6 linked regions of the Homo sapiens genome follow. The protein of the gene in region 1 purifies or fractionates together with the protein of each later gene. This does not show direct contact. Each region holds a gene or a part of one and is shown in the gene's direction. Other genes may lie near its edges.

Region 1 (5,041 bases):
TTCTTGGGTTCCCAGCCATCCTAGGTAGTGGGAAAACCCATCGTTCAACTTCCCTCCCCGCTTCTACTGGTACCCTCTGCCCTAGTCTGGGTGCTCCCTCGGTCTCCTGACTCCTTCTGATTAAAACAGAAAGGACCCTTAGACGGTAATCAATAAAACCCATCAAAATAACAATGAAGGCCACACGGCTAAGTGCTAGTCCCCGTGCTGAGGATAATTTCCTCACATTCAGGATCTTATTTAATTTCACAACAATCTGATGTGGGCCACAAAGCACTGTTGTTATCCTCATTTGGCAATAAGAAGATTGAGTTCTAGAGAGGTGGAATAAGCAACTTGGTGCAGTCATTTTTTTTTTTTTTTTTTTTTTGAGATAGAGTCTCGCCCTGTCGCCCAGGCTGAAGTCTGGCATGATCTTGGCTCACTGCAGCCTCTGCCTTCCGAGTTTCAAGTGATTCTCTTTCCTCAGCCTCCCGTGTAGCTGGGATTACAGGTGCACGTGCTGGGCTAATTTTTGCATTTTTAGTAGAGACAGGGTTTCACCATGTTGGCCAGGCTGGTCTCAAACTCCTGACCTCAAGTGAGCCACCCACCTTGGCCTCCCAAAGTGTTGGGATTACAGGTGTGAGCCACCGCGCCTGGCCTGCTGCATTCATTTCTTAAGTCTACTGTTAACGAAATACACAAATTGGGTGGCTTAAAACAATAGAAACCTATTCCTGTACACTTCTGGAGCCTAGAAGTCTGAATTGAAGGTGTTGGCAGGGCCTGGTTCCGTCTGAGAATCTGAGTGGAAACCTTCCTTACCTCTTTCTAGCTTCTGCTGGTGGCCAGAGTTCCTTGGCTTGCAGCTGTGTCACTCCAGTCTCTCCCTCTGTGATCACACGGTGTTCTCCATGTGTCTCTGTCTGTGTTCGTCTCTCTTCTTGGAAAGACATAGGTCATGTTGGGCTAGCCCCACTCTAACCAAGCACAACCTCATCTCAACTTGATTATATCTGCAAAGTCCCTACTTTAAATAAGGTTACATTCACATTTACTAGGGGTTAGGACCACAAAGTGCCTTTTCAGGGGAATACAGTTCAACCCTTAACACACTGTTCTCTAGCCCCCACCAAATTCATGGCCTTCCCATCTGCAAAATATATACATCCCATTCCAATATCCCTACAAGTCTTAACCCATCCCAGCATCAACTCTTAAGCCCAAAATCTCATTTAAATATAATCAACTCAAGAAGTCCCAATCTTATTTTCTAAATCATTAAATCAGTTTTGGATGAGACTTGGTATGGTCCATTCTGGGACAAAATTCCTCTCTCTCTCTCTCTGCGGACCCGTGAAATCTAGAAAATAAGTTATTTGCTTCTAAAATACAGTGATGGGACAGACATAGGATAGACATTCCCATTTCAAAAGTGAGAAATTGGGCCAGGTGCAGTGGCTCACACCTGTAACCCCAGCACCTGTAATCCTAGCTCCCCAGGCGGCTGAGGCAGGAGGATTGCTTGAGCCTGGGAGATCAAGGTTGTAGTGAGCCATGATTGCGCCACCTTTATTGGAAACTTTTATTCCAGTTACCAATAACACATTCCTCATTTCCTCCAGAGACCTCACCAGAAACACCTTTAATATTCATATTTCTAGCAGCCTTCTGTTCATAACAATATATGCATCCTGTTAAGATGATAGGAGATTTCTCTGCACCTCTCCTCTTTGTGAGCCTGCAGGGACATTCCCTTTAATGTCCATATTTCTACCAGCAGTCTCTTCAAGGCAGTCTAGGTTTTTCCTAACATACACCTCAAAATTCTTGCAGCTTTGGCCAGGCACAGTGCCTCACATCTGTAATCCTAACACTTTGAGAGGCCAACATGGACAGATTGCTTGAGCTCAGGAGTTCAAGACCAGCCCGGGCAACATAGTGAAACCCTGCCTCTACAAAAAATACAAAAATTAGCCCAGCATGCTGGCGCAGGCCTATAGTTCCAGCTACCCAGGAGGCTGAGGTGTGAGGATCGCTTGTGCCTAGGAGATTGAGGCTGCAGTGAGCTGAGATTGGGCCACTGCACTCCAGCCTGGGAGACAGCAAGACCCTATCTGAAAAAAAAAAAAAAAAAAAAAAAAAAAAATTATTCCAGCCCTGATCCAATTTCAAAGCCACTGTTACATTTAACCATTTATTCCAGCAGCACCCCACTTTTGTATTTTGGCTGTTGTAACAAAGTACCACAAGTTGGGTGGCTTAAAACAACATAAATTTATTCTCTCATTGTTCTGGAGGGTAGAAGTCTGAAATCAAGGTGTTAGCAGAGCAAGTGTCTCTGAAGATATGGGGGAAGAAAACAAACTCAGGATTTTTTTCTTTTCTTTTGAAAAAAACAAAAAAGAGACAGGGCCAGACGTGGTGGCTCACGCCTGTAATCCCAGCACTTTGGGAGGCTGAGGTGGGCGGATCACGAGGTCAGGAGTTCAAGACCAGTCTGATCAACATGGTGAAACCCTGTCTCTACTAAAAATACAAAAAATTAGCCGGGCATGGTGGCATGCGCCTATAGTCCCAGCTACTCAGGAGGCTGAGGCAGAAGAATCGCTTGAACCTGGGAGGCGGAGGTTGCAGTGAGCCAAGATCAAGCCACTGCACTCCAGCCTGGGCGACAGAGCTAGACTTCGTCTCAAAAAAAAAAAAAAAAAAAAAAAAGACAGGGTCTTGCTCTGTTGCCCAGGCTGGAGTGCAGTGGTGCGATCTTGGCTTACCACAGCCTCAAACTCCTGGGCTCAAGCGATCCTTCTACCTCAGCCTCCTGAGTAGTTGGGACTACAGGTGTGTGCCACTACCCTTGGCTAATTTTTTAATTTTTTTTGTGTAGACGGGGTCTCACTATGTTGCCCAGGCTGGACTCAAACTCCTGGGCTCAACTGATCCTCCCACCTCTGCCTCCCAGAGTGTTGGGATTACAGGCATGAGCCACTGCACCTCGCCCCCTCCTTGGGTTTAATTTGCTAGAGCAGCTTACAGAACTCAGGGAGACACTTACTTTCATTTACTGGTTTATTATAAAGGATGTTACAAAGGATACAGATGAAGAGATGTGTAGGGCACAGCATGGGAAAAGGGCGCAGAGCTTCCATAGCTTCCCTGGGCACCATTCTCCAGGAATCACCACATGTTCAACTATTGGGAAGTTCTCCAAACCCTGTCCTCTGGATTTTTATGGAAGCTTTGTTATATAGGCATGACTGATTAAACCATGGGCTATTGGTGGTGACTCAACCTTCACTCTCTCCCTCCTTCTTGGAGGTTGAGGGGTGGGGAAAAAGTCCCAACTGTCTTATCCTACCTTGGTCTTTCTAGTGACCAGCACCATTCCTGAAGCTCTCTAGGGGCTGCCAGCCACCAGTCAACTCATTAGCATGCAAAAAGATACTTAACTCTTTCCCAGGGATTTTAGGAATTTTATACCAGGAAACATACAAAGACCAAATATATATTTGACAACATCACGCAGTCCCTCAGGGTCTCTTCATGGAATCTGCCCTGTCTCCTCCTGGCTCCTGCTGGCGGCCCACAGTCCTTGGCATTCTTGGCTTGCAGGTGCACTCCATTCTGCCTCTGTCATCACGTGTGTTCTCCCCTCATGTCTGTTTCTGTGTCTGTTCCATAAGCATACCAGTCCCAGGCTGGGTGCGGGGGCTCACGCCTGTCATCCCAGCACTTTGGGAGGCCAAAGTGGGTGGCTTATCTGAACTCAGGAAGTTTGAGACCAGCTTGGGCAACAGAGAAACTGTCTCTACCAAAAATACAAAAACTTAGCTGGGTGTGGTGGCCTGTGCCTGTAGTTGCAGCTACTCAGGAGGCTGAGGCAGGAGAATTGCTTGAACCCAGGAGGCAGAGGTTGCAGTGAGTTGTCTACCAGTCCCACGGCATTAGCACTCGTCCCAATCCAGTACAACCTCAACTTGATTGCATCTGCAAAGGCCCCGTCTCCAAATCACATCACATTCACACTTAACAGGGGTTAAGACCACAAGGTGTCTTCTCTGGGGAACATAACCTGTAACATTTTTCTAAGGTCACATATCTAATAGGTGGGAGAGCCTGGCCTCCAGCTCGACTCATCCTCACTCTAGAATCTGGGCTCTCTTAGTCATTGGTACACACTTCTGTTTCATAGGGAAGGAGGCTGAGGCTAGGAGGACTTGCCTGACTTAGAGCCTATACCCCTAAGCCTTGGGCTCGTGGCCCCCGTCCTCTACCTGAGCAACTTGGAGCCCAGAGGGATGACAGGATTCGTCCCAGCTCCCAGAGAGGAGCCTGGCTGGGCTGGCTTCTTTGTCCTCTCTCCTTTCCCCGCATGGGGCCCTGACTTTATTGTTTCCGCCCCTGCCGCCATCCTCCCTGTCCCAAGTTCCTCGTCTATCCCTACGGGATCCCCGCCCCCTTTCATGTTCTGACGTCCATTTTCTTTTGTCTCCATCCAGGATTCCCCTCTAAAGACCCTCATGTCCCACTATGAGGAGGCCATGGGACTGTCGGGACGGAAGCTCTCCTTCTTCTTTGATGGGACAAAGCTTTCAGGCAGGGAGCTGCCAGCTGACCTGGGCATGGAATCTGGGGACCTCATTGAGGTCTGGGGCTGACACCCCACTCCCTGTTTGACGGCCCAGCCTGGACTTGGGGAGAATGACTTTCCCTTTTTTGCCCCATAAGGGCTAGCATAAGCTGAGGTAGAACTTATCTTTAAGCTGCAGCAAAATCAAGGAGTGACTTTTGTCCCCTCTCCTGTTGACCCTGGTTTAGAGCCGTTAACCACTTGGTGAGTTATGTGGGTGTTGTTGCCCTGGGTGGCCTGTGGCTCCGTCCACAAGTCATGCTGAGTTTTGCAGCCTCTGTGACTTGGAGATGTCCCTTCACCCCTCCCCTTTCACCACCATCCTCTTTTCCTCATGGAAATGTCTGCTTTATGAAACTATGCACATATTGAAAGTGAGTTGAAACAAATGAGGGTTGGGTAGGAGCTTCCAGGCCTGGGATTTACACC
Region 2 (6,097 bases), about 25 Mb from region 1:
TGAGGCAGGAGAATCGCTTGAACCAGGGAAGTGGAGGTTGCACACACCACTGCGCTCCAGCCTGGGCAACAAGAGCCAAACTCCGTCGAAAACGAAGCAAGGAAGGGAAGGAAGGAAAGAGAAATTATTTCAACAGCACTGGCCTCTCCATGTCGTCACTCAGTCTCCTCTATAAATTCAAGTCCCAAGACACCCTGCCCTACCCTTGCCTCTGGGCTGCTTATCATTCTTGTTCTGTCTTCTTTATCCAGTTGGAAACCATATTACAAACTAACTTAGATTTCCAAGCCAGAGAGCAAGTAAACACCTCCTAAATCCTTCATCAAGGAAAACCTCTTGGAAGGTTTTGAAGCTCAACATTCAGAATCAAATGTAGTCTTACCCAGTAATTCCACTCCTAGAACACAAAAACTTGTGTTATGAACACGAATGTTCATAGCAGCATTATTTCTAACAGCCAAAAAGTAAAAACATCCATATGCCCATCACCTGATACATGGATAAACAAAACATGGTCCATCCAAACACGTGATTATGCAGCCATGAAAAGGCATGCAGTACTGATTCATCTACATGGATGAAATCTTGAAAACATGCTTAATAAAAGCCCAGCAGAAAAAGCCAAGTATCACATGATCCCATTTACATAAAATGTACTGAATACGCAAAACCACAGAGACAGAAAGCCGATAAGTGATTGCCAGGGGATGGGGTCGGGGGAATTGCGGAGTGACTACGAATGGGTACGGCAGGTTCGATTTGGGGTTTTAAAACGTTCTGGAATTAGCGACGATGGCTGCAAATCCTGTGAACGTACTGGAAACCACTGAATGTACACTTCTAGTGTGCATTTTATGATACTGTATCTTTTAAAAAACATATTGTCTGCCCTGCAAACTGATTCCTTTACACCTCTCCTGTGTTCATTATTTCAGTGACTGGAGGCACACTACTCTCAGATGTTAAGGCCAGAAACCGGCAAATCGTTAACAACTGCGTCTTGACTATGCTCCATATTTCTCCATTCTTTTCGCTCCACCTCCTAATTCGGGCCGCTCTCACTTTTCATCTAGATTATGTAATAGCCTCCTAATGGGTGTCCTTGCCTCATCTGTTCTCACTGTAATTAGGCCTTTAAAAACAAAATCTTACGCCGGGCGTGGTGGCTCACGCCTGTAATCTCAGCGCTTTGGGAGGCCGAGGCGGGAGGATCTCTTGCGGCCAGGGCTCGAGACCAGCCTGGGCAACATAGTGAGACTCCCCCCCCCGCCCCCACCGCCCGTCTCTACTTAAAAAAAAAAAAAAAAAAAGCCGTGAGCGGTGGCTCACGCCTGTAATCCCACCACTTTGGGAGGCCGAGGCGGGCGGATCACCTGAGGTCAGGAGTTGGAGACCAGCCTGGGCAACAGAGTGAAACCTAGTCTCTACTAAAAACACAAAAATTAGCTGGGCGTGGTGACTGGCGCCTGTAATCCCAGCTACTTGGGAAGGTGAGGCACAAGAACCGCTCGAACCCGGGAGACAGAGGTTGCAGTGAGCCGAGATCGCGCCACTGCACCCCAGCCTGGGCAACAAGAGCAAAACCCCGTCTCAAAAAACAAACAACAAAAAACCTTCAATGGCTCCCGACGACCCCAAGTTGAAGCTCAAACCCTTAATACGATGTGTAAAGTCCCTCAAATACCAAGCCATGGCAAACCTCTGCTACCTTTCCCCCAGGCCCTGGCTGGCTTCACCCTAGCCCTGCGGAAGAGCTCGGGCATCCCCTCCAGGCACCTGAAGCGCGGCAGAATCCCCTCTTCACGTAGCTAACCCTCCCCGACCTCCAGGCCTCGACTCTCACGCCACCCCACCTGAGAGGAAGCTTCTCGGGCCCCCAGGCCAGATTTGGTGCCTCTCCCGGTCCCCCTCACACCGTCCACTCTCCGCTCCACAGGCAGGTATGCCCAGAGGGGGCCGCCGTTGTATCCGCGAACATTTCCTGAGCCAGCTGGGGAGGAACCAGACTTTATCTCACAGCTGCCACAGTGCCTTAAACTCGCCCTAACTCTTTCTCAAAAACTAACAGACTCCACCTGAAGCAAGCGCCGCTTCCGCCTCGCCCCGCCTCCTGCCGACCGGAAGCGCTGGCCGCCGCGGGCCCGCGCCCGGCGCCGCAGAGGAAGACCGGAAGCGAGGCTGCCGCACCACCGCGCGCGCCCGCTCTGCGCCTGCGCGCAGGCAATGCTCCGCGGGGGCGCGGGCGGCGCATGCGCAGGCGCGCGAGTCTCCGTTAAGAAGGTGCCGCGGCGGCGCCGGAGGTAGGAGGAGCCGGGCTGTGGGGCTGGGAGTCGGCACCCGGGAGGCGGAGGTCCTGTCATTTCGGGCCGTTCTCTCTTTCCTAAGGGAGAAGAGCCTTTCTCGCCCGTCTCCCTCGCTGGCTCCGTGGCCTCGGCAGGCCCGCAGCCCCGACGGAGAGGCAGGAGCCGCACTCGGGTGGAGAGGGGCCGGGGCCCGCCTGGAGGGAGGAGGGTGGCGGATCCGGATCCCCACGGTGGTCTCCGTCCGGGCCAGTCCGGGGATCGGGGTTCTCCGTCTGACTTTAGAGCCGTTAGAGTCTTTGGCAGCCCTTTTCCCAGACGGGGAACCCCTCAGCCCCTTTCCGTAGGTCGCCGGGTTGGGGGAAGCGGGAGGGTCCGCCCCTTACCGATCCATTCATTCATCCCTCGCCTGCTGTGAGCCGTGGGCTGCGGTAGGTACGAAGCAAGGAGGCACAAGTCCCCTTCCCTCTGGAAACCTGCAGGCTTGCAGGATCCGTTATGTCATTCAGTAAATCTTGACTGGGCACCTATAGGAGGAGATAGACTGTTGTGAGGTTCATATCAACAGAGATGCGGAGATCAACACAGTTGTGGAGGTGGAATTTGTTCCAGCCGCTCCCCGCATCCAACAGGATAAAATTCACTTTGCCTAGCCTGACCTTCCAGGCCCTTGTGAGCCAATCCTTTCCTCTCCCCGCAGCGTTTTCTCCTACACCTTTCTCTCTACTCCCATTATACCGAACTCTTTGCAATTCATGAATTCAACAAGTAGTTGTGGAGCACTTATTTCAAGTCAGGCACCAGATCAGCCAAAGAGGTTGCAAAGTAATAGATGGATCTCTACCCTCCTGAAGTGTTGAGCTTAATGGGGGACAGATAATAAGCCGATGAATAAAAACACAAGAGCGGATAGTTTCGAACCACACTTCCTGGGTTTGATCCCAGCCCTGCCACTGTGAAAGCTGTTCCTGAACTGGCTTTAGGCCAGTTCCTCATTCTGCTTGCGCGTGTTTCCTTGCCGTAAAGACAGGATGACAAGAGATTCCACCATATAGGCTTCTTGTAAGGATTAAACGAGTTTGACTTGGAAAGCAATTGGAACAGTGCTTGGCACACAGTAAGCATTCGATAGATATTACCTGTTTCATATGATGATAACCTATGACAGATGCCATTGTGAAAACAGTGGGCGATGATAGGGATTAACGGGGATGGAGACGGTCCATAAAGGATTAGAGGACACTTCTCTAAGGGGAAGACACAGAAGAGAATGCGCCAGCCATACAAAGTAGATTCTAGGTAGGAGTATTTTCAGCTCTGGAAAACAAAATGATTAATTAGATTCCTTGGACAGTGGAGATTGCATTATTGTATTTGAAAGGAATAACTTTCTGCCATTGGGTCATTCAGTTTTGATTTTTGAACCCCACTTAGCTGTGTGCCAAAGTAAACAACCATGCTCACGAGGCCCAGCCTTTGCACACAGGCGACATTCCAGTCATCCAGGTTTGGAGAGCCTTGCTGGGTTGAGAAGATAAGTAAAAGTGACCTTTTCTCTCCTGAGTGTTCATGAGAATATAATGTCTCTTTCTGTCTCTTATGTTGCAGTATTTACAGAAAGAGCCTCTTTAACAGCCAGGGGTCTTAGATCAGTGTAGGAGATAGTTTTCCTAGATTTGGGGATCATCCTGTTTCTGTGGTGACTGCCTTTTATGGGGTTTGCTCCCTAAATTTCAGTTAAGAAAACACTCTCCCAAGATGCACATATTTTAATACCTGTGGAAGAACAACATGCTTTGACAGGTTTCTAGGTCCTTTTGTTGTGATGTCTGATAGGACGGTTAGACCATGTTAACCAGGCTGGACTGAGTATTTGACAGTATTGTTACTCCGAAGACTTTTCCCTCACCCCACATGCCCTTGTCCCTCCCTGGAAGAACTGGCATAAAATGACAATGTCTGATTACACTTACATGCTTTTGGTTTTCCACAGATGTGTAATTAAGTGAACCATATATGTTTCATCATCATGGAGATCTTGGAGAATTATCTGAGCACCAGGTTCATATGTATTCGATCTCAGAGGCATCTATTGGACAACAAAACACTCTTTCAGTTGTGAACTTTATTTATTTATTATTATTATTTTTTGAGACAGAGTTTTGCTCTTGTTGCCCAGGTTAGAGTGCAGTGGCACGATCTCGGCTCACTGCAATCTCCGCCTCCCAGGTTCAAGCGATTCTCTTGCCTCTGCCTCCCGAGTAGCTGGGATTACAGGCATCTGCTACCACGCCTGGCCAATTTTTTGTATTTTCAGTTGAAACGAGGTTTCACCATATTGGCCAGGCTGGTCTCGAACTTCTGACCTCAGGTGATCCACCCCCCGCCTCGTCCTCCAAAAGAGCTGGGATTACAAGTGTGAGCCACCGCGCCCGGCCCAGTTGTGGACTTTAACAGAGGGAAGCTTTAAACATGTTTAACCACAGGCCCAATTTGAACAAAGATACTTCAATCATTATAGAGAGGAAAACAGTACTTTTTGTTCAATTGTGCAAACTCTCCAAGTATCTAATGGAGAAGTAGAGAAGAACCCTAATGAAACTGAGTGTGAATGAGGCTCAGCTAGGCTTCTACTTGGGTTCACTTTCTCATCTGTCTGCCTGTCCTGGGATTGACCCTCGCTCCTCTGAAGACCAGCCTGAAAGCCTTAAAACTGGTCAGATGATGGATGAGTCTGATGAGGACTTTAAAGAACTCTGCGCTAGCTTTTTCCAAAGGGTGAAAAAACATGGAATCAAGGAAGTGTCAGGAGAAAGGAAGACACAAAAGGCTGCCTCAAACGGCACTCAGATAAGAAGCAAATTGAAAAGGACCAAACAAACTGCTACCAAGACCAAAACCCTTCAAGGCCCTGCAGAGAAGAAACCTCCGTCTGGCAGCCAGGCCCCTAGGACTAAAAAGCAAAGGGTAACCAAATGGCAAGCAAGTGAACCGGCCCACTCTGTGAATGGGGAGGGGGGTGTGCTTGCCTCTGCTCCAGATCCACCTGTGCTCCGGGAAACAGCACAAAACACCCAGACGGGTAACCAGCAAGAACCATCGCCAAACCTTTCCAGAGAGAAAACCAGAGGTAATTTGTACTCTTTTAAACCAGGGGCTGGAAAACTTCCTGGAAAGGGCCAGATCGTAAATATTTTGGCTTTGTAGGCCACACAGACTCTGTCACAACTACTCAACTCTGCTGTCATAGTGAGAAAGCAGGCGTGGACAATATGTAAATGAACAGGCATGGCCATATGCCAGTAAAACTTTATTTACAAAAACAGGCAGCCAGCCACATGACCGTAGTTTGCTAACTTTTGGTTTGTTTTTATTTTTTAATTTTTAAGCTTAAAAAAAAATTTAGAGCTGGAGGTCTCACTATGTTGCCCAGGCTGGTCTTGAACTCCTGGACTCAAGCAATCCTCGTGCCTCAGCCTCTCAGAGTGCTGGGATTACAGGCGTAAGCCACTGCGCCCGGCTGACTCCTGGTTTAAACAACAGTCAAGAAAAACATAACCCGTGTGAATTTTTCACATGATTGTGTTTGGAGTCCTCTGCTCTTTCAGAATTTCCTATGAAATTCTGTTATATGATTGACATGAGTTACACAAACAACACAATAATGCTGCTTCTCTTGTTTTCTTGAATTTATTCCAAAGTGGGTAAGTTGGACTGGGCCAGCCAATTTGGATAGGCTGCTGAGAGGGCCGCATGAGGACTCTGTGTGGGCTCAAGTCCCAGGAGAATCTTCAGGT
Region 3 (5,299 bases), on another chromosome or scaffold:
TAATTTGAAGGCCGATATATCTATTTTTCTCCTGCCACTTATGCTTTTGGTGTCACATCTTAGAAGCCATTGCCTAATCCAAGGTCATATAGATTTACTACTATATTTTCTTCTAGATATTTTATCCTGTTAACTCTTACATTAGATCTGTGATCTATTTGTGGTTAATATTTGTATATGATGTGAGGGAGGGATAGAACTTTATACTTTTGCATGTGGATATCAAGTTGCCCTAGCTTCTTTTGTTAAAATAATGTTCTTTCTTCATTGAATTCCCTTGTCCGAGATGAAGTGACCGTCAATAGAAGAACTCACTCATTCCATTGATCTGTATGTCTGTCCTGCCAGTACCATACGATCTTGATTACTGTAGTTTTGTAGCTGGTTTTTAAATAGGGGCATATGAGTCCTCTAACTTTATTATTTCTGAAGATGTTTTTGGGTATTCTCAGTCCCTTGCATTTCCATATTGAATTTTAGGACTAGATTGCCAGTTTCTGCCAAAAAAGCAACTGCAATTTTGATAAGGTGTTTCACGGTTTTGCAGGTATCTTTTAATGTCTTAACAGCTGGATTCTCATCTCTGCTCCTGAATTCATTCCCTTAACGTTATTTTAATGAAGTAAGGAGTACTTGAATAGTTTTTCAGGTAGTTGAATATTCTTTGATACCGAAACTTCATAAGTGATAGTTTGCAAAGAATAGTTACACTATGCAATCTGAAATCATATTGATGAATTTGCCCAACTCCGCAGGTCTGCTTTATACTTGGAATGGATCTTCTACCATGCCTGGTTTTGTAGCGTTACTGGTCATTTGGAAAATATTTGTTCATCGTTACGCAGATCTTCCACATGTTGACACATTTTATTATACAAGCATTTTTAAAAATCACATTTGTTAATATCACCACCAATCTCTGCAAAGTCTTAAGTTTTAGAACACTGTTCGCTATGAGTGGTGCAAGTTTTCCAAAATTCTAATTTCCTCCTTGAGTTCAAATAATTTCCTTGGCAACATGCTACCAGTTTTTACTTGAATTGACTGTTTTGTTTCTTTAATTTCCAAGAAAATGTCTGCCAGCTATTCACATTTGCAATAATGATAGTTTGTCATCATTCTTGCAAGTAAAAAAGGCATTCCATGATAAAAGTGGCCAGTTCAGATCACTTCTCAAATGACTGCACAAGTGCTTTTTTTGGAAACAACCATCATACTTCAGTATGTAACAGAGGTGCTTTATGTGTACATCTCATTTTGTCGTGCAGAATATTAAAAAGACAGGTACCAAAGGGTCAAGATTTAATATAATTTTACTGCTTTTTCAAGGACACTGTTAAGTAGAAACAGCTCTTTTCCCACTGTGAATGCATGGTAGTAAAGAATACAGTGACTTACCACTCAGTTTGTAACTACTGTTTTTGATTCATGCCAAGGGGTGCCGAGCTAGCAGTTTTCCCTACCATTGCTTTTGCACCCTTAGTACAAATGGGAACTTTGTGGAAAAGGCAAATGATAACTTAATATTGCTATGAATATCGTTTTGACCTCATGAGACCCCTGAAAAGATTTTGGTAAACCCCTTAGAGGTCCACAGACCACCCTTTGAGAACCATTAAACTGTTGTAAGCTAGGATCTTGTTCACTGCTGTGCAAAATCGAATTGACAGTGACTGCATCCTAAATGCTGTTCACAGCGATATGGTTCCCACAGTGTTAGAAGAGCCTCCTAGGAGAGGCCCTGTAGCGTTGTGAGAGACAAAGATGGCAAGGCAGGAAAGAACTTGGCGTGGTTAGAATGGAAGGAAGCACGAGGGAGGCCAGAGAACATCAGGAGAGTTATGATATCTGTGTGCCTATTGGTTTGGCCTCTGATTGTGTTGCATTTTTGGATGAGTTGTGTTTGGACCTGGTGATGGCGAGGCTCCCAGAGAGTAGTGAAAATTGCAAAGAGTAGCAGGATACCAGAGACCCATATACTAATAATATAGTTTTTAAATACGAGTATCAGGATGAAGGTGGGGAGGAGTACACAAGTAAAAATAGCAACTTTATCACAGAATGAGACACTGCCACCTCTACCTGTGATTGTGGAAGGTCAGAGATGCACAATGCTTTTCTTGGGTGAAGATTCAGAATAACAAGTTCGCAAACAACTGTAATAGTGTCCATGGCTGGATTGTTCTTAGTTACTTGAATAAATCAGAACTGAACTTGCACATGATTGTGCAAGTGAGAGTATTATGAAATCTTTAGGGATCATACTTGAAGGAACCTTCATTCTTAGTTCTAATTTATTCTGAAGTACCAAATGAAATCTTAACATTGATACAGTACTCACGGTCTATCTTCGTCACGTCATTCTTGCTAACTGTGAGAATGCAAACTGCTGAGTCCTTTTAACATGAATTGCTGGATTGATTTTTAAATATAATCAGCTGTGCGCAGTGGCTCTCGCCTATAATTCCAGCACTTTGGGAGGCCAAGGCGAGTGGATCACCTGAGGTCAGGAGTTCGAGACCAGCCTGGCCAACCTGGCGAAACCCTGTCTCTACTAAAAATACAAAAATTAGCTGGGCGTGGTGGTGGGCGCCTGTAATCCCAGCTACTAGGGAGGCTGAGGCCTGCAGGAGAATCACTTGAACCCGAAGGGGGAGGTTGCAGTGAGTCGAGATCGCGCCACTGGGCGACAGAGCAAGACTCCATCTCAAAAAAAAAAAAAGAAATCTAACATTTTAAAGGTTCTGGAATACTATTTTAGTATTTTAATTTTCTTCAATATATGTTGGGCTTCTGGTTATTAAAAAAAAAAAAGGAGTTCCTGTAGGATTGGAGCTTTAAATCTAAACTGGTATTAGTTTAGAACAGGAAGTGCTAGAAAAGCCTTTACGTTGTGCTCTTATGGGCAAGTTAAGAAAGCAGGGCAGTTTAAAGATAGTGATAGAATTCACTCCGAAGTGTCATGCTTGCTTGGTTTGCGTCTTATCTGTAGTAGAATTGAGTCTTTCTCTCCCGCATTTCTCTTTTTGTTGTGCTTACATGTTTGCAGAAGGACTCCTCATGGACATTTGAAAGAGAAGTTGGTGTTTTAGCAAGATACACCATCCCACCTTTTGCAGGATTGAGAGTTGAATGTTAATAACTACCTGATGGCATAGTACATAATTTGTGAATGGGGATGCAAATATGGGCTTTTACAGTTAATACAGTTTTATGAGATGAAATGCTTTTCTAAGACTTCTGTGTCTTAGATATAAATGTGTCTGCCTATTTTGCTAGCTTTATTTTTTTTTTTATTTTTTATTTTTTGAGACGGAGTCTCACTGTGTCATCCAGGCTGCAGTGCAATGTCGCGATCTCGGCACACTGCAGCTTCAACCTTCCAGCCTCAAGGATCCTCCCGCCTCAGCCTCCCGAGCAGCTGGGACTATGGGTGTGTGCCACCATGCCCTGGCTATTTTTTTATTTTTTTGTAGACATGAGGTCTTACTTGTTGCCTCGACTGGTCTCGAAGTCCTGGACTCAAGCGATCCAGCCACCTCAGCCTCCCAGAGTTCTGGGATCACAGGCTGAGCCACTGCACCTGTATTTTGCTGGCTTTAAAATCTCAATCACATTTGGCATTTGTTTGAAAGAGAACATTTGGGCCAGGCCCCCAAAGATTGAATCACTGCAACTGTTGGTTGAAGAGGACAGTTTGTGAGTGTTATGTGTTATTCAAATTAGGTGTTCATTAAGCATTTGAATAAATGCTCTACTTTGTACCAGTCACAAAAGCTAGGACAGTTATAATCCTTGCCCTCAAGGAGCTTCAGTCTAGTTGAGAGCCACAGGAACTTGTTCCTGCTACTGAGAATAATAATTGTTGGTGCTTTTGAAGCATTTACTGTTATGGGGTACAATCTTAATGCACATGTATTAATAGCCTTTAAACTCGGGTAGGTGCAGTTGTTACACCTATTTTGCAGATAAGGAAACTGAAGTACAAAAAGTTTATGTGACTTGCCCAATGTCAAACTGTTGTTAAGTGACAAAGCCAGGATTTTGAACTCAGGCAGTGGCTCCAGAGCAGGCAGTCTTTAATCAGCTACTACACGATTGTTACTTAAATACAGTTGGGATAGGTGTTTGAGAGAAATAATCAAAGGCAGGGCTAACTTGATCATCAAGTGGGGATGGGGGTGGTGGGAGAATTGTCTTTAAAGGAAAGGCAGTGTGGCTCACTGAGTGAATGAGAAGGGTGAGGTGTGAGTAATGAGAGAGGTCGGGACTCATGTGTTTGCCAACTGTCCTTCAAGAACAGTTTTGTCTGCTCTGTGAAAAGTTTTAGACTTTTTCCTAGAAACTGTGGGAAGTGACTGAAGGGTTTTAAGCAACAAATAAGACGATGATCTATACCAGGGACTGGCAGACTTGTTCTGTAAAAGGCCAGATAGTAAATATCTCAAGCTTTGCAGGGCAGGCCATGTAGCCTCTCTTGCAGCTATTCTACTTTGCCTTTGTAGGACGGAAGCAGCCACAGACAATACATCAACGAGTGGGTGTGGCTGTGTGCTAGTAAAACTTTATTTATGGATATAACACTTGAACTTCATCTGATTTTCAGTATCATGAAATACTGTTTCTTTTTCCAACCACTTAAAGATGAAAAAAACATTTTTAGCTCATAGACTGTACAAAACCAAAACAGGCTGTAGGCCAAATTTGGCCCCTGGTCTGTAGTGTGCTGATCCTGGCTTCCATCCTCCTGCTGTTCTGTGAAGTGGGAGGGGTGGTAAGGGAGTAGAAATGGGAAGACCAGCCAAGGCGCAGAGTAGATGAGATGAAGAGGACGCACATGGGAGATTTCCTTAGAGGGAGAATGGGCAAGACCAATGTGGAAGCTGTGAAGTAGCCTTCAGATTTCTCATGTGAGTGCCTGAGTAGGTCATGTTGCCATTGGCTAAAATCAGAAATGATGGAACAGGAGCAAGTTTAAGGGGTGGACCAGATTTATTTATGCACCTGCCAGATCCACACACTTTCCTTGCTTTCTGGCCACAGAGGCCCTAGCGACCACCCACACAGGGCACAGTTCCCATGGTCCCGAAGACAGGTGGCTGTGCCTACAAGTAGGGTTCTGAGGGTTTGCTGGCCCTGGGTCCTTGTGTCACCCAAGGATTTGACCAAGCATACCCTCACACCGCAGGATTGTTGCCCCAGAGACAAATGAGGTTGCTGGGCCCGGGTGGCCCCACACGCTCACGTTGCCCACTCAGGCAGGCAGTGTCTTACTACAAGGATGTTTGTCATTCCTGCT
Region 4 (5,299 bases), on another chromosome or scaffold:
TTCATGTTTAATGGAATGCTATAAAGTGTAGTACACATGTTATGTACTTGCCCTCTTAAATCAATGTGCTTCCTTGTAGCTGCAGATGCACATAGCGATGGTATCAGGCTTTAGGCTGAGAGACTTCATTTGTTCCTCCATACACACAGTATAGTTCAGCCCCATACTGCTGAACCACATTGGTTATATATGCTCACTGTGATACACTGAGGCTCTGCAGGCTACAGTTTTGAGATACAGGTGACAACTTGCTTTCTTGGAGAGCTGAGCTTCTGTCCTTATCTTTTGAACTCAAGTTCTCTTCTCAGTTTTCACTGTATTTGCAGTTCTGTACCCAAAACACCATATATGATTTCTGTTGGTCACTGCTGTTGTAGTCTTTTCCTCCTTGACCACTGGTCCTATCATAGCTATTTGTGTGCTCTACTATACCCTTCCCTCTTATATTCTCTGTTTCCTCTTTTTTCTTCATTATCCTGTTAACTTTTTCCAAACTTTCCATTTTATGTAAAAATGCTCTCTCCCCTTACATACCTTGGCAGGCAATAAAAGCACTCCTTTCTTTTTGCATGTTGAACTGATCAGACTGTTGGATGTAATGTTCAGGTGCGTTGCCACTTCTCCATTCTGCTCTGTGTTGCCAGGGGAATATGGATTCTTTTTTGTTTTTTACCACTAAACTTTTTGTTTGTTCTGTATATTACAATAGTATAAGGGTAGACTTTGTTCCAGGGTATAATCATATCTGAAATCTAATGTGGCATTTGCCAGTGAGTTTTAACTATGGAATATCATGTGGCACAAGAATGGTTTTTACTTCAATAGGATCATGGTAGCAGAAATGTGGAGAGGACCGTGTGTCATTCTGGCTATGATTTTATATTGTTTACTCTTGAAATAACTCTAAAGATTGATATGTGTATATACAGCCTTAGTAATTAATTTTTCTCATCAGTTTACTCTTAGTTTATCTCTTGATTTATAGGTTCCAAGGAATCCTGATATCCCAAATCCAGCTCTGGCTCAAAGAGAAGAGCAAAAAAAGATTGATGGAGCTGAACCTCTTACACCAGAAGAGACTGAAGAAAAGGAAAAACTTCTCACACAAGTAAAATATTTTCAATGGCTGTAATACTTACAGTCAATCAATAGAAAAAAAGAAAATATAGATCACACTTTTTATTGTATGGGCCTAGTATCCTAGTGTGACACACCAACAAAACTCAGGGCTATTTTGTAAACATGTTTAGACCAAATCTCCTTATTTTTAAAAATTGATCTTATAGAATATGCCCTTTTGGAAATAGTGGATAGTATGTATATGCAAAATATAAGTGTCAAGTATTAGCAATTTGACATACATTTTGCCAATTATAATAAGGTCAGTGAATCCACATTTGAATTCTGATAGACAGTAGTTATTAACATATTCTTTTTTGTTTTTTGAGACAGTCTCGCTCTGTCACCCAGGCCGGAGTGCAGTGGTGCGATCTGAGCTCACTGTATCCTCCACCTCCCAGGTTCAAGTGATTCTCCTGCCCAAGCCTCCCGAGTAGCTGGGATTACAGGCACCCACCACCGTGCCTGGCTAATTTTTGTGTTTTTAGTAGAGATGGGGTTTTGCCATGTTGGCCAGGCTGGTCTCAAACTCCTGACCTCAAGTGATCCACCCACCTCGGCCTCCCAAAGTGCAACTGATACTACAGGTGTGAGTCACCGTGCCAAGCCTGTTATTAACATATTCTTGAAAATTTAAATTTCTTTTGTTTATAGATGTGAATTGTCTCCTGAAGTTATATTCTACTAATTTTTTATTAATGGAATAATTTCATAATTTTCAAAATTCTTTTTATCTTTTTTTATAATTTTCATACAATGATGAGAGATTTCTGAAGCTTTTATTATTATTATTATTATTTAAGGTGATCATTGTATAACAATTATTAAATTAGGAAGGTTTCCATTTGAACAAAATATTAATGCTTTTAAGTCATTATTGCTATCATGAGTTTTACGAGTGTTCTACTTCTAAAATAAACTATAGAAGATAAAAATTTCAGCATAGAAGGCTTGCAAAATAAACAAAATGTGTACCGTAGGACATTACTTTAGTATAGAGGGTTGCCAGCAAGATTTATTTATTCAACAAATTTTGAACAATGTGCGATGCATAGTAGTAGGTAATTCTCCACGTTAATTATTGAAAGATAGTTTTTATATTTGTATATTATTTATTATATAGGTTTTTTTTGCTATAACGTAATTTTATTGTATGGATTTTCACAAATTACATTCATAAGTTTTTGAGCCAAATGCCTGGAAGTAATAAAGTTTAGTTTGAAAATATAATGGCAGATGGCTGAATATTAGAACTTACCACAGAATAAAATAAAACATTTAAATATTCATGTTCTATTTTCAAAATGTATTTCCTGAATGTAAAAGTAAAGTTATGGCTTTAGAATGCTACATGACTTGGAGTATATTGTGAATGTACGGTATAACATGAATATACAGTCTCAACTGAGATAATATTTTAGTTTGTAATTAGAAATATAATCAGTTTTCTGCTTCTCCTAGTATATGAATTCATTTTTGTCCTTCTCTGCTGCCTTAAATAATTAATCTTTTTCAAAAAACCATGGCAGTACGTAGGAACAAAATGTGGGGTCATCTGAAATCTTTATCAACTAAAAGCCAGGGATAGAGTTTTGCAGTGTCTGGAGTATCACATTTATGTGAGTTGGGGCTCGAGGAGTGGAAGACAAATTCTTGGTCTTGTGACTTCACAGACATGCTAATAATGCCAAGGGAATTTAAAACACTGGCTAAAGTGTTTTATGTTTTAGTAAAGAAATTGAGTGGCTCCAATAACGTTCTGCTTGTAGAAGTTCTATTTATGAACATAATTTAGAACAGAAATTATTTATTCACACTAGTTCAGAATGATGTAAAGAGCTACAATTTTTTTTTGCATTATCTTTTGGTTATTCCTCAGTGTTCTTTTGATTTAGTGCATCCACATTTCTCTCTTTTAATTTATGTAGGAACAGATCTGTGAAAAAAATCATTGAAGTACTAGAATATCACGACTTCAGCATTTATATTAGCATTTTTATTTTCATGCATTTGTATTTTAATGTAGGCATCTATAAAATATGAAATTAAAAACTACAGATCTTCGAACTATGTATCAACATTCTCTTTGTAATAGAAAAGCAGTTATTTCTATAACAACTCTCACTCAACTTTTGATTCCAACATAAAATATGTGCAATTTTATAAGGAGAAACATTTTAAGTCTTTTAAAGTGTTTTTTAATGTATCATTGTATAGAAGTAAATAGGGCAATAAATGGATTTATTAATTTAACCTCTATTGATAATGCTTAACTTTTTGTTCACAGGGTTTCACAAACTGGACTAAACGAGATTTTAACCAGTTTATTAAAGCTAATGAGAAATATGGAAGAGATGACATTGATAACATAGCTCGAGAGGTAGAGGGCAAATCCCCTGAGGAGGTCATGGAGTATTCAGGTTTGTATATAATTTGAAACATGGTGTTGTATTTTAACGTTATTCATTTATTTAGCATCAATTTAATTGTACCTTTGTTCAGAGATGTTTTAAACTTTTATGAATAAGACATAGATGAGAGTATAAACTATAATTGTATTTCTATGAAAAGGTTATAAGAAAGGTTATAAGATTTATCCTAACAAACTGACTGCTATTGTCTCTATCACCTAGCTAAAAGAGGCAAATAAAGCTCTGATAAAACAAGGGTGGCTCTTGGATAAGCATTGACAAAATTAGTTTCCCACCTTCCCACCTCTGGAATTTGGTCTTCTGGTTCAGTTCTGAGATTCACATTCAGTGGATTGAATTCGTGCCTTTCTTTCTAGGTCGTCCTTAAAGTAGAGAGTTCCTGTCAGGCCCATTTAGATGCTCAAACACCCTCAGAGTTCCACCCTATTCCAGAGAGTTCCTGTGGGTCCCATTAACTTGGGGCTAGCGGGCGTAGAGCTGAAAAGATTGCTTTAATCAATCTGTTAACTGGTCCTCAAATCCTCTCCCTCTCTTACTCACCTGTGTTGTTGAGCTCGACCAGAATCAGTTTAGCTGCTGAAGCATATGGATTTTTTTTACACTTACTGGTTTATTATAAAGGGTATTGTAAAGGATACAGATGAAGCGTGTAGGGCAAAGTATGGGCCAAGAGGGCGCAGCGCTTTGGTGCCCTCCCTGGGCGAAACCTCTTCGTGTTTAGCTATCCAGAAATCTTATTAAAAATAGGTAAATATGTCTAGCAAGTTTTCTATATGTAGTACATGGGACTTTTCTAACTTCCAAATAGGTTCAGCTCTTAAACTTATCATTTGAAACAAGATGTTTAGAATCTAGAGCATTTTTTGTCATTGAAACAATGGCAAAGTAGGTTTAAGTTTACAAAGTAGGTTTAAGTTTCTATGATAGCCCCTGCCCCAAATCTATTTAACCCTACCACTGAAATTCTGTTTTTGCAATAGTAGGAAAGAAACATTACAGTACCAATAAATATACTAAAGATTAATAATAGCTAGGAACAGCTTTTAATTTATCTAGCATGCTAGTGCTTGAAGAAATCCAGATTTAATTAGAGAGATTTTTTTTTCTTCTGGAAATCTAAAAGAGTCTTCTGGGGGACTTCAGAGGTCAGTTGTATTGAGTTTTTATTACATATAATATAACATTAAGTATATGAACTTCCTTTTCCTTCATACCAGCATGATATTACTATTACTCTGAACATTTAGCACATAAATTTAGGGCATTTGGAGGCTTAGGGGAAAAAATAGATTGAAGAGAGAAATTTTAGCATCAAGAGTTGAATGAAAAGAATGTAAAAGGGTATGTGCAGAGAGATTTTTAAGAAGAATTTTTTTCAGAAGATAGGCAGGGAGATAACATCGGTGTATGTGAAGTTGCAAGAAAAAAATGTGATTTAAAAAGATGATCCTGTCAGACTTTCTTTCAAATTTGACACCAAGCCAGGTGGCATGACTAGCTCAGGACTATTTAATTGCTGCCTGCCAGGTTGGGGGCCATGTCACAGGGTGAGGAGATTGCAATGAGTTTGTTGTAGTTGGTTACAGTAAGAGAAGAAATGTGTACAATTGACCACCCATGAATATACAGTATCCTGTACATAGCAAGTGTTTAAATATTTGTTGAATGAATATGTGAGTGAATGAGTAAATGAACACAGGTGCTTATAAAAATCAGAGTGCTCACATACCTTTCTTGATAGGCTCTAA
Region 5 (5,299 bases), on another chromosome or scaffold:
TACTTGGGGGCTATGACGGGAGAATCGCGTGAGCTGGCGGGGCTGAGGTGGCAGTGAGGCAAGATCGTGCCACTGCACTCCAGCCTGGGTGACAAAGTGAGTCCCTATCTCAAAAAAAAAAATAGTTCTGTTTGTTAAAATACAGTTAACTCTGCAAGTGTAATTTTTTCTCCCTTCTTTTTTTTATTTTTTTATTTTTTTGAGATGAAGTCTTACTCTGTCGCCCAGGCTGGAGTGCAATGGCACGATCTTGGCTCACTGCAACCTCTGCCTTCCAGGTTCAAGCAATTCTCCTGCCTCAGCCTCCTGAGTAGCTGAGACTGCAGGTGCCCACCACCACGCCCGGCTAATTTTTTGTATTTTTAGTAGAGACAGGGTTTCACCGTGTTAGCCAGGATAGTCTCTATCTCCTGACCTCATGATCCGCCTGCCTCAGCCTCTCAAAGTGCTGGGATTACAGGCATGATCCACTGCGCCCAGCCTCTCCCTTCTTATTGTTATAAACTCATAGGTCATGTTCCCAAACCATTACGCACTTTCCACCCTCAGAATATTGATGTCTATGAAAATATACCAAGAAAAATGACAATAAATGTATTTTTTTCCAGGTATCCATGTTTCTAAAGGACAAAGTTCAGAATAATAACGGTCGCTTTGTGTTGCCGGTGTCCGGGCCTGTTCCTTGGGGAACTGAAGTTCCAGGACTCATCAGGTGAATTCCCAACAATGATCAGAGCTATGTTTGGGGTGCTAGGAAATCAGCACATGGGCCGCACACGGAATGCCGCACTGCCAAGCCACTCACAGTCTGCCCAGCCCTTCTCTTTCTTCAGTAAAACAGCTATTGAAAAAGTCAGGTTCTAATCCCCACCTTGTCACTTAGTAGAGGGACTTGAGGCAAGTTACCCAGTTCCCCAGGACTAATTTCCTCATCTGTTAAATGGTTACTGTGTGGATGAATAAGATAATAGTGCTCTAACGTGCTTACAAAGCAATTGGCACATACATATGCTCAATAAATATTATTATTGTATTATTATTATTATTATTACAACCAGCACCTTTATCTTGAAGGAGAGCATGTATTCCTTTTTTGTTCTGTAGTACAAAGAATAAAGAAGCCTCCAGGACTACCTAAGCTTGGAGAACATTCCATCATGTCATACTTTGTATTGTAGAATGTTCAACAACAAAGGTGAAGAAGTGAAGAGGATAGAATTCAAGCATGGTGGAAACTATGTCCCTGCACCCAAAGAAGGTTCTTTTGAACTTTATGGAGACCGAGTCCTGAAACTGGGAACTAACATGTAAGCAAATTCTTCTCTGAGTGAATTCAAGTCCAAGGGAGGTCACTTCATTTAAAAAAAAAAAAAGAGAAACAGCCAGACTTCTGCTATGAAAATCCCTGCCGACAATAGGAGTAATTTCCCCTTAGGTACACTGCATACAGAGGCCTGACATTTCAAAGGGCACCCAGGAACGCCAAACATAAGGCAACTCAACAGAATGAAAAGATACATGATGTTCAATAGCCATGCAAGAGAACTAGCCAAAATCTGTGTTGCAGTGGAAATCCAGAAAGACTTATCCGTTCTGTAAAGCTGCATATATTTTCAGTGATGCGTGTTACTCTTCACAAGAGGAGGCATTGCCACCCAGCCTCCCCAGGTGTTTTTCTTTAGGAAGAAGTGAAATGTGAATGGTTAACACACACTCAGTTGCATTCTGTACCCACAGCACCTTTCTGGATGCTATTTAATGTCTCAGAATAAAAGCTACAAACTATGCTTACGAGTTAGAGAGAAGTCCGTGGAAAGGGGCTGGATAATGTCACCATTTTCTGTTGACACACCAGGTACAGCGTGAATCAGCCTGTGGAAACTCATGTGTCTGGATCATCAAAGAACTTAGCCTCATGGACCCAGGTGAGCTTCTGCCTTCCTTGCCTACCCTCACAGCTTCTCTCTAGATACGGAAGTCTACATAAAGAGAGGTGAGAACGCTTTAGATTTCGGATCTAGCCAACATTTCCCCTGTTGTGTGCAATCTTCTCCATTCCACCTTACGAGTACACAGGTTTTAATTGTAGCTTTTCATGGAGACTTCCAGTGATCTCACTAATTAGGTAATTTTAGGCTTGGCTCGGCCACCATAATTAAGAGGAACCACACACCAGGACATATGCAGTAGCGTAGTACCAGTGCCATTAGGTCCGTGATTGCTGACATCAGCACTCGTGTGTATTCTGATCATTAAAACATTTCTTTTTAATGTTTCCCTCTATAGCACCGTGGTAGCTAAGTCAGAGTGGGGGGTTTTAGTTTCTCTGAATTCCATCCTTAGAAGTTTTCGCTGAACTAGCTCCCAGCTAGCTGTAGGAGAGATCACAGAATATTAAATTATTCAGCAAACATTTATTAAACTGCTTCTATGGGCTGGGGACCCAGGGACACGAAGCTGACGTAGATGTGGTCCCATCTTGAAGGGGCCTGTGGTACCCTGGGAAAGACGGTGAAAGAAACAACTCAAATGAGGTGGAGGAAGGGCTGGCTGGGGATCCTGCACAAAGTGCTGTGCCAGAGGAATTCATGTCTGTCCAGTGGACAGGGATCACAGGGATCAAGAAGGCATTTCAGAGGCGGGGATATTGAAGTGGGGCTCTAGAGTAGGTAAACTATGAAACAGCAGAGAGGGAGAAATGGGCACACGGACCAAGGTGACAGAGGGGCAAGAGTGTTCCCGGGAGGAGGATGGCGGTGTCTCCCACGAGGCTTACGTAACGGATCACAGTATCATGGAGGCTTGCTGGCAGAGACTCGCCTGGACAGGACCCTGGGGCCTGACCAGGAAGGGTGGTAAACAATTTGGGCTTTGTTCTTTCGACAGGAGGCAGAGGGCTTTGTTTCAAGCCAGGGAGAAATGAGACAAAAACTGCATTTAGGTAACTGGTGGTGGAGTGAGGGGAGAGGCAGAACAGGGGAGGCCAGGCTACAAGGAAGAGGGGTACAGGATGAGGCAGGATGAGGACTGTGAGAGGAGGGAATGGACTCGAGGGTGTGTTCCCGGCCGTCACCACCTGAGGGCAGTGTGGCAGCGCCTCTGGAAGGAGACTGGACTGAGGCGACTTGTAAATGCTGAGGGAAACCGATTGACAGGAAAGGAAGCCATACACTTCTTCAAGGAGGAAGGTAGTGAGAGGAGAAACGTGGATCCCTGGGGCTTCCACTCTTGCGGAAAGTATGAAAATCTCTGGTTTGCAAAGTTGCTACATTCCCTCTGCTACTGACGTGATTGTTTTTCTTTTGGTTAAGGCTGCTTTCTACACTTTATTTGGACCCAGAAATAATTTAAATAGCAATTGTTCTACCTTATTTTATAATACCTACCTGTGTCTCTGAGGTTTTAGCAGGAAATGTGATTGCCTTCATGTGGCTAAAAATCATGCAACTGTTTCTGCAGGAAAGCATTGCTCCAAACCCTCTTGCTAAAGAAGAGCTGAATTTCTTGGCCAGGCTGATGGGAGGGATGGAGATTAAGAAACCCAGTGGCCCTGAGCCCGGATTCCGGTTGAATCTCTTTACCACCGATGAAGAAGAGGAGTATGTTTTAAACCTGTTTCGTTAAAGACATATAAAAATCCCAAGCATGACAAGAACACAAAATGACTATTACAAACCAGTGGCACTTATAAATATTTGTGTAAATATCACAAATAAAATACCAACAAATTTAATAATCTAAATAGCCCACCAGGATGAAATGGCCTGAATCTTCCAGAGTCATTCAAAAAAAGAGATGGGGCCGGGTGCAGTGGCTCACGCCCGTAGTCCCAGCACTTTGGGAGGCCAAGGCAGGCGGATCACAAGGTCAGGAGGTCGAGGCCATCCTGGCTAACATGGTGAAACCCCGTCTCTACAAAAAAAAAAAAAAAATTAGCTGGGTGTGGTGGCACGCACCTGTAGTCCCAGCTACTCGGGAGGCTGAGGCAGGAAAATCACTTGAACCCGGGAGGCAGAGGTTGCAGTGAGCCAAGACTGCACCATTGCACTCCAGTCTGGGAGACACAGCAAGACTCTGTCTCAAAAAAAAAAAAAAAAGAGACGGTGTGATGGTGCGCACCTGTAGTCCCAGCTACCCACGAGGTTGAGGCAGAAGGATCGTCTGAGCCCAGGAATTTAAGGTTAAGCAAGCTGTGATCATGCCACTGCATTCCAGCCTAGGAGAGAGAGCAACACCCTGTCTCTAAAAAATGATAATAAACAAAACAAAAAAAGAGTTATAATGTTTTACTTATCAGAGAACAGCTGAATAAGCAGTGTTAGAAGCCAGGATGACCAGATTAAGACAGTGTGTTAAGAAACCAGAGTGAGGTTGGAGCTTGATTTCCCTGTATTAGACAGTATAACCCAAAACCAACAGCAATAGTAAATCACCCACGGTGATTTATAGTGCTTTACAGTTTACAGAGCACTTTTGCATGCATTATCTCATGTGATCCTCCTCAAAACCAAGTATTTGGCGTGAGTGTCACCTTTCATTGAACTATTAATAACTTCTTTTGTTTAATTCTGTGTGACAGGTACTATGTAAAGTCCTGGGAATGCAAAGATGTAAGACCTAGAGCCTGTCCTCAGGAAGCTCTCAGCTTAGTGGGAGAGTGAACGTGTACAGATATAAGTTATTTCAGTGCTGTGTCATGAATGCGCTAATTGAGGACAGTGACTGACTTTGCACTGGCAGATTGAAGGAGCTGGCATTTGATCTAGGTCTTGGAGTTTGCCAAGCAGAGGAAGGGAAGAAACATTCTTGGCAGGGCTTATAATGTGCAAAGTCACAGAGAGATAAAAGAACTTGACTTTCTAGGTCGTAGGGTACATTGGTGGGAGATGGGGTAGAAAGTTTAAGAGAAATGGCAGATGAGGCAGAAAAAATAGGTTGCCAACTGATCAAGAGCCAGTTTGCCATGCTGGCAGGGAAAGAACCCTAATGTTGCACCCATTTTCTTTACCATCTCATCCAGACAAGCAGCGCTAACCAGGCCAGAAGAGTTATCCTATGAAGTTATCAACATACAAGCCACCCAGGTACGTACAGGGGATAACACAGGGTCCAATCGTATTCGCTTCCTCATCTTTTTTTTTTTTTCTTGAGACAGGGTCTCGCTCTGTCACCCAGGTGAAGTGCAGTGGCTTGATCTCAGCTTACCGCAACTTCCACCTCCCAGGTTTAAGCAATTCTCATGCCTCAGCCTGCCGAGTAGTTGGGATTACAGGTGCCCGCCAATATGCCCAGCTAATTT
Region 6 (4,096 bases), on another chromosome or scaffold:
ACTGCTTGAGATAATGAAGGGTACAGCGCTTAGTGCCATGTCTGGTAAATATTATATTAAAACTTGATTGCTCCATGACGCCTGCCATTTTTTTTTTTTTTTTGAGACGAAGCCTCACTCTGTCGCGCCCAGGCTAGTGTGCAATGGCACTCTCTCAGCTCACTGCAACCTCCGCCTCCTGGGTTCAAGTGATTCTCCCGCCTCAGCCTCCCGAGTAGCTGGTGCCTGCCACCACGCCTGGCTAATTTTTGTATTTTTAGTAGAGACGAGGTTTCATCATGTTGGCAAGGCTGGTCTTGAACTCCTGACCTCAAGTGATCCACCGGCCTTGGCCTCCCAAAGTGCTGGGATTACAGGCGTGAGCCACCGCGCCCGGCCGATGCCTGCCATTCTTTCCCACTCAATGCCACTGTGCTTAGGACAAGGCACCTGCTAAGGAGTGGGGTGTGCGGGGTTGGGGGTGGGAGTGATCTTGGCAGGTCTAGCTGGGAAGAAAATCCTTATCAACAAATGTCACCCAGCATAGGACATTGGGGAGCTGATCACTGGCTGCTGGTCAAAGGGCGCTCCAGTCCTGGGGAAGGCCTAGGTTTGAATCCATCCACAGAGCTCAGTTAAGGCTGCTGATTAGATATGGCGGCTCAGGTCATGTCCCCAGCCAATATGGGAGGCGGCAAGGTTCATCCAGATGAAGGTGGCATTTAGATTTAGGCTCTGTCCTTTCCCGATAGGGTGACCTTGGGCTAGTCACTTTTCCTCTGTGTCCTCTGGAAATGGGGCTCCTCATTCACCTCTCAGAGCGTCTGAGGAAGTGTCGACACAATGGGTGTGAAATGCGTGGGTTACAGGCCGGCGGGTGGCATTGGTTACGCGAAGTCCCCGCGGGGGGTCCCTATCCAACGGGTTCCATTCCGGTTAAGCGGTTCCTTCTCCAGGGGTTTTTCGCCTCGCCGCTGCCTCTCCGCCCCTGCGAGCGGGGCTCAGCGAACAGCCGACTCCGGGGCCATTACCATTGTTCTTCGAGGCTGGGCCGCAGGGGAGGACTCTCGCAAGCCAGACCTCGCCTTTGGTCTTTCCCTCCGCCCCGCACCCGCGCCGCTGTAAGCCAGCGAAGCCTCCCTCGCCGATCTTTGCCGAGGAAGCGAGTTAGCCCCTGAGCCCTCCCGAACGGCGGCCGAGGACGCACCCGAGCGTCTCCGAAGAATCCCGACCCCTAGCAGTCTCCGGAAAGAGCCGAAGAGGCTTCCCACCCTCGGTTTCCCGAGCCATTCCGAAAAAGTCCGAAGTTTTCCGAGCAGCCGTCCTGCCGGACTGCTGGAGGCGGCCACAGCGCCATGTTGGATGCTCTGCTCGTTGAGTGAAGAAAATCCACCGGCATCGCCTGAGCCCCGCTACCGAGAAGGGCGCCGCTTCCTCCGGGGAGGGGGATAAAGATCCCCCGCCGCCGGCCCATGAGGATATTGCCGTGAAAGGTCCGGTCTCTCCGCCTCCTGCCCCCGCCGGGTCCGGCCCCCCCCCTGGGGTCGCGTTGTCACGGAGACCGGCAGCCGGTGGTGCTGGCCCGCGGGGCGGCTGCTGCTGCCGGCGGCGGCGGCGGCGGAGGCGGCGGCGGCGGCGGCGGCGGCGTCGGGCGTGTGTGACCGGCCCCGGCCCCCTCCTCCTCCTCCCCCCAGGCTCCCCCCAGCCCCCCGCTCCCGCCGCCTCCCCGGGTCTGCCCCCATCCCGCCCCCCCGCTGCCCCCGGCCCCTGCACCCCGGCGCGCCCGGTCCCGCTCTGGGGGGGTTGGTGGCTTCGCTTTGCCATGAGTTTACCGCAGAAACCGGCTCTGAAATCAGGCACAGCGACTGCAGCAGGAACCGGACCCGGCACCGGAGCGGCGGCGGCGGCGGCAGCAGCGGTACCGCCTCCTCACCCGGCGGCGGCAGCAGCGGCGGCGGCGGCGGCGGCGGCGGCGGCGGCGGCAGCGGTCCCCCCTCCTCACCCGAACATCAGGGCCCTCCAGACTCAGGCGCCCCAACAGTATCCTTTTCACCTTCCTGTCGGCCCTTCGGTTCTCGTCGTCGCAGTCCAGGGGGACCCCGCAGCCCAGGGGACCCTCCTGCCGGCCGCCACAGCCCAGCCAGGAAAGGGACAGCGGCTCAAGCCCCTGCATCGGGCTTGGGCGGAGCTTTTGGGGTGCCCCGGCAGCAGCACTGCGGGGGGACCCCCAGACCCTCTGCAATACTGTGAAAGCTAGCCCCACTTGGCCATGCTTCTGCAGCCCCTTCCTTTTAGAGCTTGGGGTCCCTTCTCCCCTCCTCCCCTAAGGTACCCTCCCCCCCTTTATTGGGCAGAATTTGCTTGGTGCCTGGGACCAACCCTGCAGGGAAGGCTTTTCTCTGGTTGTTGTGAGGATTACACCCTCCTGCTCTTCACCTCCCCTCGGCTCCCCCTACAGCGGGACACAGTGGGCTTCCATAATTATTATTAGTACATAATAAACTTTATCGGTAAATTTCTTGTTTGAAACCAATCAGCTCGTTTCCGAGGTATGTTGGATTTTCAGTCTAAGGTGAAAATGTACAGAAAGCAGTTCCTCTGGATAATTTTTTTTAGTAATGGGAGAGTTGTGATGTGGTTTGTGGTAGAGATCTGAGGAGGAAATGTGACGCCGGACGCTTCCCTGTCTTTGACCTTTTTAAAGGAAGAGGAAGTTCACCGACATTACCCATCACCCACAAAAGTCTCACTTCTTGGAAGATTTGTGTTAGGCTGAATATTTTTAATGGGCTTTAATTTACTCCTCATAGGCCTGATGTCTAGAGAGTTACCAGGGCTTCTGGAGGAAAGTCTAGTATTGAATGTTTCTAATTTCATGTTATTTGCTCGATTGTAGAATTTTGGAGAGCTTTGATTGAAAAGACTTGGTGATGGGGTATTTTAGTCAAAAACTAGCCGGTGAAGGTAAAACGTTGAATTCATGTATTCCACGGAGATTTAGAAAGGTATTGCGTACCTGAGAATAACATTTCATCATGCATCACCTCCTCCCTACACCCACTGTATTTGTGTAAATCAATAAATAATGATTGGATGTTAGATGTGTTGTGTTTTTATGTTTGTGTCATCGTGCGTTTGACTTTTAGAGATTGTAGGATGTTTGAGCAAGTAAGAAGCTAACTGCTGTGAGGTCCCCAGATTATTTCACAGTCTGTAGTTTGATTCTTGTCTGTATAGATTACTTTGAGAAGGGAAAGCAATCTCCCTTCTAGAGTCATTTCAGGTCATTGTTTGTTTTCTGCCAAGTGTCATTTTCTCTGTTCTTTAAACCTAGTTCGTGATTTTCAATCCAGGCACCGCGGTGCAGTGTAAAGATAAATTCCATTCCAGTGTGACGTGTGTACTGATTTCATAATGTTTTTATCCTGCATGATTCTGTTCAATTAGGAATTGTTCACCGATGAGAAAGTGTGGTGATAACTTAGCGTTGCTTATGGAAAACCTGGTTGGTTTTGTTCAGTGTCTCTGGGGTGGGGGAAGATTGGCTGGTTTGCCTACTTAAAGGCAGAGTTCAGTGTTGAATCTTTTAAACCTGTCTTTGCTTACTACTTTGTGAGTTTAAATTCCTTTCTAATTTCATTTTTTACCTTGATTGCCTATACTCGGTTAGGACTTTTAAGTTTCTGAATTGTGCTACCACGTAAATTACTCATTACCTGCATCTTTGAGCTGTTTTGGCAATTGAACAGAAATAAAAGGAAACCTGTAGTAGGTGTCCTTGATGTACAGAGTAGTAAGGACCACAGTGCTGAATGTGACACTGTTTGGTGAATTGGGTGGCTTTTTGGGATACAGCTGTGTTTCAAGTATGCTTTTTCTCAGTGCATTTCATAGAAGGACTTATAAAAGCTCTGAGTTGGTTGCAACATTCAAGTAGTTACAAAAGCTGAAACTTAATTTTCTTTTGAATAAAAAGCACTTGTTAAAGAGATAAATTTAAGTGTAAGTTCCAGTGTAGATAATTTTAAACCAATTTTAGTCATATGGAACACTTACTTTTGTGTGGCTTTAAGTTTTTACTTTGCCTCATGCCATTGAAGCTAAAATTAATCTTCCT

The links.
Region 2: the proteins of NFATC2IP (region 1) and SLX4 purify together in Homo sapiens (affinity purification with western blotting, with the first as the bait; one study listed by BioGRID). This does not show direct contact.
Region 3: the proteins of NFATC2IP (region 1) and RHEB purify together in Homo sapiens (affinity purification with mass spectrometry; 2 studies listed by BioGRID and IntAct, with this or other methods). This does not show direct contact.
Region 4: the proteins of NFATC2IP (region 1) and SMARCA1 purify together in Homo sapiens (affinity purification with mass spectrometry; one large-scale study listed by BioGRID and IntAct). This does not show direct contact.
Region 5: the proteins of NFATC2IP (region 1) and OSCP1 purify together in Homo sapiens (affinity purification with mass spectrometry; one large-scale study listed by BioGRID and IntAct). This does not show direct contact.
Region 6: the proteins of NFATC2IP (region 1) and EIF4G3 purify together in Homo sapiens (affinity purification with mass spectrometry; 2 studies listed by BioGRID and IntAct, with this or other methods). This does not show direct contact.

What each region holds. Positions count from the first base shown.
Region 1 is NC_000016.10:28,959,224-28,964,264, forward strand, and holds part of NFATC2IP (NFATC2-interacting protein), read left to right. Parts: intron 1-4,481; coding exon 4,482-4,640; 3' UTR 4,641-5,041. UniProt on the Homo sapiens protein: In T-helper 2 (Th2) cells, regulates the magnitude of NFAT-driven transcription of a specific subset of cytokine genes, including IL3, IL4, IL5 and IL13, but not IL2.
Region 2 is NC_000016.10:3,607,763-3,613,859, reverse strand, and holds the start of SLX4 (structure-specific endonuclease subunit SLX4), read left to right. Parts: upstream 1-2,253; 5' UTR 2,254-2,300; exon of another isoform or gene 2,301-2,731; intron 2,732-4,293; 5' UTR 4,294-4,895; coding exon 4,896-5,430; intron 5,431-6,097. UniProt on the Homo sapiens protein: Regulatory subunit that interacts with and increases the activity of different structure-specific endonucleases.
Region 3 is NC_000007.14:151,509,088-151,514,386, reverse strand, and holds part of RHEB (GTP-binding protein Rheb), read left to right. Parts: intron 1-5,299. UniProt on the Homo sapiens protein: Small GTPase that acts as an allosteric activator of the canonical mTORC1 complex, an evolutionarily conserved central nutrient sensor that stimulates anabolic reactions and macromolecule biosynthesis to promote cellular biomass generation and growth.
Region 4 is NC_000023.11:129,467,013-129,472,311, reverse strand, and holds part of SMARCA1 (SWI/SNF-related matrix-associated actin-dependent regulator of chromatin subfamily A member 1), read left to right. Parts: intron 1-985; coding exon 986-1,108; intron 1,109-3,406; coding exon 3,407-3,539; intron 3,540-5,299.
Region 5 is NC_000001.11:36,418,776-36,424,074, reverse strand, and holds part of OSCP1 (protein OSCP1), read left to right. Parts: intron 1-608; coding exon 609-712; intron 713-1,104; coding exon of another isoform or gene 1,105-1,138; exon of another isoform or gene 1,139-1,178; coding exon 1,179-1,307; intron 1,308-1,855; coding exon 1,856-1,925; intron 1,926-3,459; coding exon 3,460-3,599; intron 3,600-5,020; coding exon 5,021-5,084; intron 5,085-5,299. UniProt on the Homo sapiens protein: May be involved in drug clearance in the placenta.
Region 6 is NC_000001.11:21,174,098-21,178,193, reverse strand, and holds the start of EIF4G3 (eukaryotic translation initiation factor 4 gamma 3), read left to right. Parts: upstream 1-1,296; 5' UTR 1,297-1,472; intron 1,473-1,780; exon of another isoform or gene 1,781-1,801; coding exon of another isoform or gene 1,802-2,019; intron 2,020-4,096. UniProt on the Homo sapiens protein: Component of the protein complex eIF4F, which is involved in the recognition of the mRNA cap, ATP-dependent unwinding of 5'-terminal secondary structure and recruitment of mRNA to the ribosome. Functional homolog of EIF4G1.